3 separate regions of the Homo sapiens genome follow, and regions 1 and 3 are each linked to region 2. The links come from fine-mapping of genetic effects on gene expression. A gene starts in region 2. Each other region holds a variant in brackets. All regions are shown on one strand. Distances are between the middles of the regions.

Region 1 (4,244 bases), 84 kb before region 2:
TAGATATTTTAATCTGCCTGTATATCAATAGAGGTGCCTGTCGTACAAATAGAGATGTGTTAAAACGTTCCAGTATGTTTGAGAATTTGTTTTGTTGATTACTGCTTTGTATATTCTGAAGTTATGTTATTAGATGCACATGGTTTAGAATTATCATGTCTTCTTAATGAATTTAACTTTTTAACATGATTAAATGTCTTCTAAAATCTCTAGTAATATTCCTGTCTTTAAAGTTTTCTTTGTGAAGTTAGATCAGCTTTACTTTTTGGTTAGGGTTTTCAAACAATCTATTTTTTCATCTTTTTACTTTCAACTTTTCTGTATCATTATATTTAAGACATTTTCCTTGTAAGTAGTGTATAGCTGTTTTTCAATCCAATATGATCATTTTGTCTTTTAATTAGATTATTTTTGGGGTGCATTTTAAAAAATAATATCTAATATTCATTGAGCACTTACTATACATTATACTAGTCACTGCATTAAATGCTTTTCATATGCTCTGCCATTCAATTCTTACCACAACTCTATTTAGGTAGTAATTGAAATAGTTGATGTAAAATCTACCACCTTACTACCTGTTTTCTATGTTTCACCTGTTATATGTCCTTTTTCTTTCCATTCTTATCTTCTTTTGGATTAATTTCTTAATCATTTAATTTGGCTTCTCTTTCTGCTTGCTAGTTATATGTTTTTTTAAATTCTTTTAATAGTTACCCTGGAGATGAAAAAATAAAGTCTTGACTTATTAAATGTAGTTTAAGTTAGTACTCTTTCCACTTCCTGGAGAATTCAAGAACATTAGAAGATTTTAACTTAATTAGTTCTCTTTAATCTCTTATGTTATCATTGCCACATATTTAAAACCCTACTAAGACATTATTGTTATTGCTTTAGATAGATAATATTTATTAGATTTACTCATGTATTTATCTTTTCTTTGCATTTGATTCATTCTTACATTTGAGTAATTTTGCTAAAAATATTTTATTAATTTGAATAACTTTATATAAATATTTTTCTAGTGGTTTTTTTGGCAAAGAATTCTGTCAGTTTTCTGTTTATTTGGAAATATTATTATTTCACCTCTAGCATTAAAGACTATATTCTTTAGCTATAGAATACTAAGTTGGTAACTATTTTAAAAAAAACCCTTTATACATATATGTTCAGCACCTTAAAGTACATTATATCATCTTATGGCTTCCATTGTTTTTATAATAAGAAACCAGGTGCCAGTCTTATTGTTCCTTTTTTACTTTAATAAATTGTTTGCAACATTTTACTATAATATGGCAAGGTGTGTTTTTCATTTTTCTTTTCAAAATTTATACTTTAAAAATTCTGTAGCTTGATATATTTTATCACTTTGAAAAATTCTTGGTCTTTAGAACTTCAAATATTATTTCTGCTTTATATTCTCTTTCTTCCTCTTTTAAGACTCGAATTTCATTTTACATTAGAATTTCTTGAGGTCGAGCCAAGATGGCCAAATAGGAACAGCTCAGGTATACAGCTCCCAGCTTGAGCGACACAGAAGACAGGTGATTTCTGCATTTCCATCTGAGGTACCGAGTTCATCTCACTAGGCAGTGCCAGACAGTGGGCGCAGGACAGTGGGGGCAGTGCACCGTGCATGAACCAAAGCAGGGTGAGGCATTGCCTCACTTGGGAAGTGCAAGGGGTCAGGGAGTTCCCTTTCCTAGTCAAAGAAAGGGGTGACAGACGGCACCTGGAAAATAGGGTCACTCCCACCCGAATACTGCGCTTTTCCTACGGGCTTAAAAAATGGTGCACCAGGAGATTATATCCTGCACATGGCTCAGAGGGTCCTATGCCCATGGAGTCTCACTGATTGCTAGCACAGCAGTCTGAGATCAAACTGCAACGTGGCAGCGAGGCTGGGGGAGGGGCGCCCGCCATTGCCCAGGCTTGCTTAGGTAAACAAGGCAGCTGGGAAGCTCGAACTGGGTGGAGCCCACCACAGCTCAAGGAGGCCTGCCTGCCTCTGTAGGCTCCACCTCTGGGGGCAGGGCACAGACAAACAAAAGACAGCAGTAACCTCTGCAGACTTAAATGTCCCTGTCTGACAGCTTTGAAGAGAGCAGTGGTCCTCCCAGCAAGCAGCTGGAGATCTGAGAACGGGCAGACTGCCTCCTCAAGTGGGTCCCTGACCCCTGACCCCTGAGCAGCCTAGCTGGGAGGCACCCCGCAGTAGGGGCAGACTGACACCTCACACGGCCGGGTACTCCTCTGAGACAAAACTTCCAGAGGAACGATCAGACAGCAGCATTCGCGGTTCACAAAAATCTGCTGTTCTGATGATACCCAGGCAAACAGGGTCTGGAGTGGACCTCCAGCAAACTCCAACAGACCTGC[A/C]GCTGAGGGTCTTGTCTGTTAGAAGGAAAGCTAACAAACAGAAAGGACATCCACACCAAAAACCCATCTGTACATCACCATCATCAAAGACCAAAAGTAGATAAAACCACAAAGAGGAGGAAAAAACAGAGCAGAAAAACTGGAAACTCTAAAAAGCAGAGCACCTCTCCTCCTCCAAAGGAGCGCAGTTCCTCACCAGCAATGGAACAAAGCTGGATGGAGAATGACTTTGACGAGTTGAGAGAAGAAGGCTTCAGACGATCAAACTACTCCGAGCTACAGGAGGAAATTCAAACCAAAGGCAAAGAAGTTAAAAACTTTGAAAAAAATTTAGACGAATGTATAACTAGAATAACCAATACAGAGAAGTGCTTAAAGGAGTTGATAGAGCTGAAAGCCAAGGCTCGAGAACTACGTGAAGAATGCAGAAACCTCAGGAGCTGATGCGATCAACTGGAAGAAAGGGTACCAGTGACGGAAGATGAAATGAATGAAATGAAGCGAGAAGGGAAGTTTATAGAAAAAAGAATAAAAAGAAATGAACAAAGCCTCCAAGAAATATGGGACTATGTGAAAAGACCAAATCTACATCTGATTGGTGTACCTGAAAGTGACAGGGAGAATGGAACCAAGTTGGAAAACACTCTGCAGGATATTATCCAGGAGAACTTCCCCAATCTAGCAAGGCAGGCCAACTTTCAGATTCAGGAAATACAGAGAATGCCACAAAGATACTCCTTGAGAAGAGCAACTCCAAGGCACATAATTGTCAGATTCACCAAAGTTGAAATGAAGGAAAAAATGTTAAGGGCAGCCAGAGAGAAAGGTCGGGTTACTCACAAAGGGAAGCCCATCAGACTAACAGCGGATCTCTCAGCAGAAACTCTACAAGCCAGAAGAGAGTGGGGGCCAATATTCAACATTCTTAAAGAAAAGAATTTTCAACCCAGAATTTCATATCCAGCCAAACTAAGCTTCATAAGTGGAGAAATAAAATCCTTTACAGACAAGCAAATGCTGAGAGATTTTGTCACCACCAGGCCTGCCCTAAAAGAGCTCCTGAAGGAAGCACTAAACATGGAAAGGAACAACCGGTACCAGCCACTGCAAAATCATGCCAAATTGTAAAGACCATCGAGGCTAGGAAGAAACTACATCAACTAATGAGCAAAATGACCAGCTAACATCATAATGATGGGATCAAATTCACACATAACAATATTAACTTTAAATGTAAATGGACTAATGCTCCAGTTAAAAGACACAGACTGGGAAATTGGATAAGGAGTCAATACCCATCAGTGTGCTCTATTCAGGAAACCCATCTCACGTGCAGAGACACACATAGGCTCAAAATAAAAGGATGGAGGAAGATCTACCAAGCAAATGGAAAACAAAAAAAAGGCAGGGGTTGCAATCCTAGTCTATGATAAAACAGACTTTAAAGCAACAAAGATCAAAAGAGACAAAGAAGGCCATTACATAATGGTAAAGGGATCAATTCAACAAGAAGAGCTAACTATCCTAAATATATATGGACCCAATACAGGAGCACCCAGATTCATAAAGCAAGTCCTGAGTGACCTACAAAGAGACTTAGACTCCCCCACAAGAATAATGGGAGACTTTAACACCCCACTGTCAACATTAGACAGACCAACGAGACAGAAAGTTAACAAGGATATCCAGGAATTGAACTCAGCTCTGCACCAAGCAGACCTAATAGACATCTACAGAACTCTCCACCCCAAATCAACAGAATATACATTTTTTCAGCACCACACCACACCTATTCCAAAATTGACCACATAGTTGGAAGTAAAGCTCTCCTCAGCAAATGTAAAAGAACAGAAATTATAACAAAC
Region 2 (4,244 bases):
TTCAACCTTTACTACTGCCTTATTGGGCCAGTGTGTGAAACCATGCCACTTGCTCTGACCTCTGACCCTCTGACCCTCTGACCCTGTCCTATTTCTCAGCCTTTCATCATCTTAGTCCTATTCCCAGGTGGCTGCTCCGATGAGCTTTCATGGGCTTGTGTTACCAGGAACTCTGGAAGCTCCCCTGGGCTGCAGTCCCCAGGAGAAAACAAGGGTCCCTGTAGGGGGAACTCAGGAGGTGAGCTGGTGCTGCTCCTTACCTTCCCTGGCAGTGAGCAGCTGTCAGCACAAAGTCCTTTCTCACTAGGATGCCGCCACACCTCTTCCGACTCTTCTCTTGCAGAAACTGAACAAAGGCCATGTAGGGGCGGGAGTGGGGCTTGGCCTCATGGCCCCCGATGATCTCCTCTGAAAGGAAAGACTGGAAGATAAAGTAGCTGGGGATGGCTGCAGTCAGGAGAGAAGGCTTAGGACGACAGTGATTGAGGGTGAAGTGTTTTGTGTGCTGCAGACAGTGAGGGAGGGGTCCTCCTGAGCTCTGCAGGCAGTACTCCTTGCAGGCAGAGCAAGCTTTTCTGAACTTTAAGTCTCAGAACCTTCTCTCAGAAAGAATGGACAGTGCTTGACTTCTGCATCCTACTGCAGAAACACACATGGAGGAAGAAAGATCTATTTTCACAGTGGTAGAGCCCCAGAGGATCCTGGACAGGACTTCCCAGGCTCCTCCTTTTTAGTGAGTCTCTCTGATTCCTCTGAGCCTCTGCTGTCCTCCTGATTGGTGCCATTTTCTAATGATCTACCCATGAGCTTCTGGAGTTGGATTTTCTAAAATTCTCATGTGCCAGGGCTGAACACATTCTAGGTTCTCAGTAAGTGTTGTTTGGTGCATAAATGAATAGCCTCCAATTAGCCTTTGGCTGAGGTTTAGTGGGGGTAGTGCTGGTGGGATTCAGGACCTCAGGGATGTTAGAGGGGGTTATCACCAGGTCAGTGGAGTAGCTGAGGGCCTGCAAAGGCAGAAGGAAGTGGAGAAATCAACTAAAAATGAATCGCAAAGCCCAGGTGGAGCCAAGGTAATGGGAGAGCTATGGACACAGTCATCTTGCCATCTCTGAGATCAGTTGCACCATGGGCTTCCCTCCTGGCAGGGGTGACTGGGTGGGGGCACTGAATAAGTGGTTCTTAAGCTGAGTCCAGTAACAACTCCTATGACTGCAACTTGGTGTCTGAGCTCCTCTTTCCTGGGTTGGAGTGTAGAGTAATAATTACTTATCTTTTTTAGCTTCACATTCCCTACCAAATGCCTTTCTAAGAACAATCCACACTCCAGGTCATAAAGGAGAGGTCTAGGGAGAGGCTAACACCCATTAAACCTTTTAGGGAACACCCTTCATTTTTCGATCTTTGCTGAGTGTCTATCTAGCCTCAGATTTATAAGTCTGGGTGTGGAATGGGAGGTGGGCTCAGATTGAGGAAAATTCCTGACCAGTGCTCATGGGTACAGGGTATCTTATAAGATGGGTTCAGGCCTCTGGAATAGGGATAGTCACTTACCTGTCCCAGCCCCAGGGGTCAGAAGAAAGGCCAACAGGAGGAGGAATGGCTGCATTTTCTCAGGAAGGCTGCCCAGGTCAGAGCTGTTGGTGTTGACTCCTTCCAGAAACAAATGCTGGAGGGAGATGAAGGAGGGATGGGTACAGTAAACTCAGAGACCTCCTAGACTTGTCCCCTTCTGGTTTTGATGGGTGTCATTATAGAAGGTGGTTTATTAAAATTATCTGGTTTGGTTTAAGTTGACATGGCACTGTCACATTTACACCCCTGCTGCTGAGTAACAAGGTGAAAGCAAGAATAAAGAACAAGGAGGTGGAGCTGTTGAAGCTGTGGCTGCAGCTAGCAGAAAGGCTGGTACTGCAGAAGCTCCTCAGTGACTGAGAACCAAGAATGTCTCCTTTTCTCAGTTCTTGGCTCTTTTTCTACTCAGATAAAATCATGAATAATTATTTAGCAAGCCAGATCCAGGGATATGAGAGACATGGCTCTTGCCCTTGAAGAATTGATGGTTAGCAAGAGTAGACTGAAAATCTGGGGTTAGAGCACAAGATGGTAAGGGCCGTGGTGGGGAAATCTGCCTGTTGGTGTGAGACGGAGGCTGGACTTGCCTTAGCAGTATGCAGAGTTGCACACACCCAACAAATACTGCAAATGGCAACCCATTCCTATCTTACCACTATCTCAGATTCATATTTTTGGGATATTTAGAATCCCCTCTTTAAATATAAATATTCTGTGACAAAGATAACTTTTTTTATTCCACAGTTCTGCACAAAAGTTCTGGACTTGATATTTATTGAACCAAAATGAGTCATCATTGGGTCCACTGAAGTGTAGTGGACTGATTGCTTTATGCTTTGGTTATTTAGCCCTCCTTAAGCTGAGGTGGGGACTGTTCCACTCCATCTATGGTGCTTATGAATGAGGAGGGGATTTCCCTTGAGAAATGCTAGTTGTTGTTGCCAGGTGATGGAAAAATGGATGCTGATCATCCTGATAATAATTGTTCACTAAGGCCGGGCGCGGTGGCTCATGCCTGTAATCCTAGCACTTTGGGAGGCCAAGACGGGTGGATCACGAGGTCAGGAGATCGAGACCATCCTGGTTAACATGGTGAAACCCCATCTCTACTAAAAATACAAAAAATTAGCCGGGCGTGGTGGCGGGCTCCTGTAGTTCCAGCTACTTGGGAGGCGGAGGCAGGAGAATGGCGTCAACCCAGGTGGAGCTTGCAGTGAGCTGAGATCGCGCCACTGCACTCCAGCCTGGGTGACAGAGCGAGACTCCATCTCAAAAACAAACAAACAAACAAACAAAAAACTGTCCACTAAGTATTCTCTCAGTTTCCAGAGAGCCATGTCTCTGATGTCCCTTGGCTCACAGTCATAGGCTGTCCATAAACAAAAATGTGTATATATACATATGTTTGTATATTTATGTATATGAATATATATAAATATATATGTATAGTTAAGTAGGAACATGTAAATGATAAAATTAAACTTACCAAAAATTCTACCACCGGAGATCATTATTAATGCTTAAGCATGTTTCCTTCTACTATTTTTCTAGGTATTTATAAGGTGCTATTCCTGCTATTACTTTAACAGAACTGGGATAGGACTTTAGGTGATAGACTTTTTTGTGATGAATTTTCCAGGTGTTCTTTGAGCTTCTTGTATTTGGATGTCTAGGTATCTAGCAAGGACAGGGGAGTTTTCTTCAATTATTTCCTCAAATAAGGTTTTCAAGCTTTTAGATTTCTCTTCTTCCTCAGGAACACCAATTATTCTTAGGTTTGACTGTTTAACATAATCCCACATTTCTTGGAGGCTTTGTTCATTTTTTAAAAATTATTTTTTCTTAGTCTTTGTTTGATTGGGTTAATTTGAAAGCATTGTCTTTGCGCTCTGAAGTTTTTTCTTCCGCTTGTTCTAGTCTAGTGTTGAAACTTTCCAGTGGATTTTGTATTTCTCTAAGCATGGCTTTCATTTCCAGAAGTTGTGATTATTTTTTCTTTATGATATCTATTTCTCTGGGGAATTTTTCACCCATATCCTATATTTATGTATATATATATTTTTTAATTTTTAAAGTTGTTTTTTCACCTTTCTCTGGTATCTCCTTGAGTAGCTTAATGATCTTCTGGATTGTTTATCTGGCAATTCAGAGATTTCTTCTTGGTTTGGATCCATTGCTGGGGAGCTAGTGTGATCTTTTGGAGGTGATATAGAACTCTGTTTTATCATATTACCAGAATTACCTTTCTAGTTCCTTATCATTTGGGTAGACTATTTCAGTGGAAAGGTCTGGAACTCAAGTCCTGCTGTTCAGATTCTATTATCCCATGGGGTGATCCTTTGATGTGGTGCTCTCCCCCTTCCCCTAGGGATGGGACTTTCTGACCACTGGACTGCATTGGCTGTTACTGCTTTTCTGGGTCTAGCCTCCCAGTGGCGCTACCAGGTTCCAGCTGGTGCTGGGGAATGTCTGCAAAGAGTCCTGTGATGTGATCTCTCTTCAGGTCTCCCAGCCATGGATACCATTACCTGCTCTGGTGGAGGTGGAAGGGGAGTGAAGTAGACTCTGTGAGAGTCCTTGGTTGTAGATATGTGTAGTGTGCTGGGTTTCTTGAATGCTGGTTATGCTAGCAGTGAAGTTTTCATGTGGACACACTCAGGACCTCTGTT
Region 3 (4,244 bases), 39 kb after region 2:
AATACCACCAGCCTGGCCAACATGGTGAGACTCCATTTCTACTAAAAATCCAAAAAAAAAAAAAAAAAAAAAGAAAGAAAAATTAGCCGGGTATGGTGGCTTGCACCTGTAGTCCTAGCTACTCGAGAGGCTGAGTAAGGAGGATTGCTTGAACCTGGGAGGCAGGGGTTGCAGTCAGCTGAGATCACACCACTGCACTCTAGCCTGGGTGACAGAGTGAGACTCCATTTCAAAAAAAAAATTCTTTGAAATACTAGATAAAGAATTGAAAAGGTTGATTATTAAGTTACTCAGGGAGATACAAGAGAAAGGTGAAAAACAATATAAAGAAATGAGAATATCAATTTATAATATGAGTGAAAAATTTTCTAAAGAGGTAGATATTTTAAGGAAAAACCAGTTGGAACTTCCAGAAATGAAAAATATATTTAGAGAATTACAAAATGCAGTGGAATTACAAAACACAGTGGAATGTTTTAACAATAGACTAAACCAAGTAGAAGAAAAAATTTAAAAGACAAGGCTTTAAAATTAACCTAATCAGGCAAAAATAAATAAAAAAATTCAAAGAAATGAACAAAGTCTACAATAAATATGGGATTATGTAAAATGGCTAAACCTAAGAATGGCTGGTGTCCCTGAGGGAGAAGAAAATGCAAAAAGTTTGGGAAATTTATTCGAAGAAATAATTGAAGAAAACTTCCATGGCCTTGCTAGAGATTTAGTCATCCAAATACAAGAAATCCAAAGAACTTCTGGGAGATTTATTGCAAAAAGGACATTACAAAGGCATATAGTCATCAGCCTATCTAAATTTAATGGGAAGGAAATATTTTTAAGAGCAGGGAGAAAAAGGCATCAGGTAACCTATAAAGGAAAGCCTATCAGACTTCTCCGCAGAAACCTTACAAGCTAGAAGGGACTGGGGTCCTATCTTTAGCCTCCTTAAACAGAATAACTGTCAGCCAAGAGTTTTGTATCCAGCAAAATTATGTTTTATAAATAAAGGAGAAATACAATATTTTTTAGACAAGCAAATGCTAAGGGAATTTGTTACTACAAGGCCAGCCCTAAAAGCAATGCTAAAAGGAATTCTAAATCTTGAAACAAAAGGTTGATATGCACCAGAATAGAACCTTTTGAAAGTATAAAACTCACAGGGTCTATAAAACAATAACACCTGTTCACGCTGATGACAGTTTTTTTTGCTGTGCAGAAGCTCTTTAGTTTAATTAGATCCAAGTTGTCAATTTTGGCTTTTGTTGCCATTGCTTGTGGTGGTTTAGTCATGAAGTCTTTGCCCATGCCTATGTCCTAAATGGTATTGCCTAGGTTTTCTTCTAGGGTTATTATGGTTTTAGGACTTACGTTTAAGTCTTTAATCCATCTTGAGTTAATTTTTGTATAAGGTGTAAGGAAGTGGTCCAGTTTCAGTTTTCTGCATATGGCTAGCCAGTTTTCCCAACATCATTTATTAAATATCATCAGAGTGAACAGGCAACCTACAGAATGGGAGAAAATTTTTGCTATCTATCCATCTGATAAAGGGCTAATATCCAGAATCTACAAGGAACTTAAAGAAATTTACAAGAAAAAAACAAACAACCCCATCAAAAAGTGGGCAAAGGATATGAACAGACACTTCTCAAAAGAAGACATTTAAGTGGCCAACAAACATATGAAAAAAAACTCATCACTGTTCATTAGAAAAATGCAAATCAAAACCACAATGATATAACATCTCATGCCAGTTAGAATGGTGATCATTAAAAAGTCAGGAAACAACAGATGCTGGAGAGGATGTGGAGAAATAGGAATGCTCTTACACTGTTGGTGGGAGTGTAAAGTAGTTCAACCATTGTGGAAGACAGTGCAGCGATTCCTCAAGGATCTAGAACCAAAAATACCATTTGACCTAACAATCCCATTACTGGGTATACACCCAAAGGATTATAAATCATTCTACTGTAAAGACATGCACATGTATGTTTATTGCAGCACTATTCACAATAGCAAAGACTTGGAATCAACCCAAATGCCATCAAAGATAGACTGGATAAAGAAAATGTGGCACATATACCCCATGGAATACTATGCAGCCATAAAAAGTGATGAGTTCATGTACTTTGCAGGGACATGGATGAAGCTGGAAACCATCATTTTCAGTGAACTAACACAGGAACAGAAAACCAAATACCACATGTTCTCACACTTAAGTGGGAGTTGAACAATGGCAACACATGGACACAGGGAGGGGAGCATCACACACCAGGGCCTGTCAGTGGGTGGGGATCTAAGGGAGGGATAGCATTAGGACAAATACCTAATGTAGATGACAGATTGATGGGTGCAGCAAACCACCATGGGACATGTATACCTATGTAACAAATCTGCATGCTCTGGATGTGTATCCCAGAACTTAAAGTAAAAAACAAAAAACAAAAAACAATAACACCATGAAGAAAACAAAGTAACTAGGTAACAATCAATATGATGGTGAGGACAGTACTTCACATCTCAATATTAACACTGAAAGTAAATGGTCTAAATGCTCTACTTAAAAGATATGGATTGGCATAATGGATAAAAAAATTACAAACCAAATATCTTCTGTTTTCCAGGGATACATATAACACATAAGGATTCTTATA[G/A]ACTCAAGGCAAAGGGGTGGAAAAAGATATTCCATGCAAATGAAAATCAAAACTAAGCAGGAGTAACCATTCTTATATCAGATAAAAGAGACTTTTAAACAACAACAGTAAAAAAAAGACAAAGAAGGTCATTATATAATGATAAAAGGATCAATCCAACAAGAAGATATTACCATCTTAAATATATATGCACCTAATTCTGGAGCTCCCACATTCATAAAACAATTGTTACTAGACCCAAGAAAAGAGATAACAGCAACACAATAATAGTGGGGGACTTCAACACTCCACTGATAGCACTAGACAGAACATCAAGACAGAAAGTCAACCAAAGACACTGGACTTAAATTGCACTCTAGAACAAATGGACCTAACAGATATTTACAGAACATTTTCCCCAAGAGCTACAGAATATACATTCTTCTCATCAGCGCATGGAACATCCTCTAAGATAGACCATATAGTAGGCCACAAAACATGTCTCAATAAATTAAAAACCATCAAAATCATATCACGTATCTTCTCAGACCACATTGGAATAAAAACTAGAAATCAATTCCAAAAAGGAACCCTCAAAACTATACAAATACATGGAAATTAAACAATCTTCTCCTAAATAATTTTGGGGTTAACAATGAAATCAAGATGGAAATTAAAAAATTATTTTAAATGAATGATAATGTGACACAATTCATCAAAATCTGTGGGATACAGCAGAAGCAGTGCTAAGAAGAAAGTTATAGCACTAAATGGTTTTATCAAAAAGTCTGAAAGTAGCAAATTGACAACCAAATGTTACACTTCAAGGAACTAGAGAAACAAGAAAAAATGAAACCCAAAGCTAGAAGAAGAAAATCAATAGCAAAGATCAGAGTAGAACTAAATGAAATTTGAAGCCAAAAATCCATACAAAAGGTCAATGAAACAAAAAGTTGGTTCTTTGAAAAGATAAACAAAATCGATAGATCATTAGCTAGACTAACCAAGAAAAGAAGAGTGAAGATTCAACTAAGCTCAATTTGAAATGAAAATAGAGACATTACAACCAACACCACAGAAATAGAAAAGATCATTCGAGATTGCTATGAACACCTCTATGTACATGTCTAGAGGAAATAGATAAATATCTGGAAACATACAACCCTCCTAGCTTGAATCAGGAAGAAACAGAAATTCTGAACAGACCAATAACAAGTGGTGAAATAGAATCAGTAATAAAAAAATTGCCAAGAACAACAAAAACAACAACAAAAAACTCAGAGCCAGTGGATTCACAGCTGAATTCTACCAGCCATTCAAAGAAAAATTGGTACCAGTCCTACTGAAACTATTCCAAAAGATTGAGAAGAGGGAATCACCCCAAATTATTCTATGAAGCCAGTATCATCCTGATACCAAAGCCAGGAAAGGACATAACAACAAAAAAAGAAAACTACAGACCCATATCCCTGATTAACATACATGTAAAAATTCTGAATAAAATATTAGCAAACTAAATCCAACAGAAAATCGAAAAGATATGTCATCCCAGGGATGTAGGGATGGTTCAACATACTCAAGTCAATAAATGTGATTCATCACATAAACATAATC

The links. PIP is the estimated chance that this variant, and not a neighbour inherited with it, causes the effect. A credible set is the group of variants that fine-mapping cannot tell apart.
Region 1: its variant is the best candidate, but not a certain one, in a credible set for the expression of GZMH in whole blood (INTERVAL, PIP 0.80).
Region 3: its variant is the best candidate, but not a certain one, in a credible set for the expression of GZMH in whole blood (INTERVAL, PIP 0.62).

Annotation. Positions count from the first base shown.
Region 1 is chr14:24,524,478-24,528,721 of GRCh38, forward strand. No RefSeq gene overlaps it. Among named protein-coding and RNA genes, the nearest start is that of CMA1, 18 kb to the left of the region's middle. RefSeq lists enhancers at 1,233-1,867, 1,868-2,500. The variant A/C (reference allele first, on the strand shown) is at 2,380.
Region 2 is chr14:24,608,005-24,612,248 of GRCh38, forward strand. GZMH (granzyme H) reads right to left here and starts at 1,681. Exons shown (of 5, transcript NM_033423.5): 1 at 1,555-1,681; 2 at 261-408. The coding sequence starts at 1,609.
Region 3 is chr14:24,646,839-24,651,082 of GRCh38, forward strand. No RefSeq gene overlaps it. Among named protein-coding and RNA genes, the nearest start is that of GZMB, 15 kb to the left of the region's middle. The variant G/A (reference allele first, on the strand shown) is at 2,652.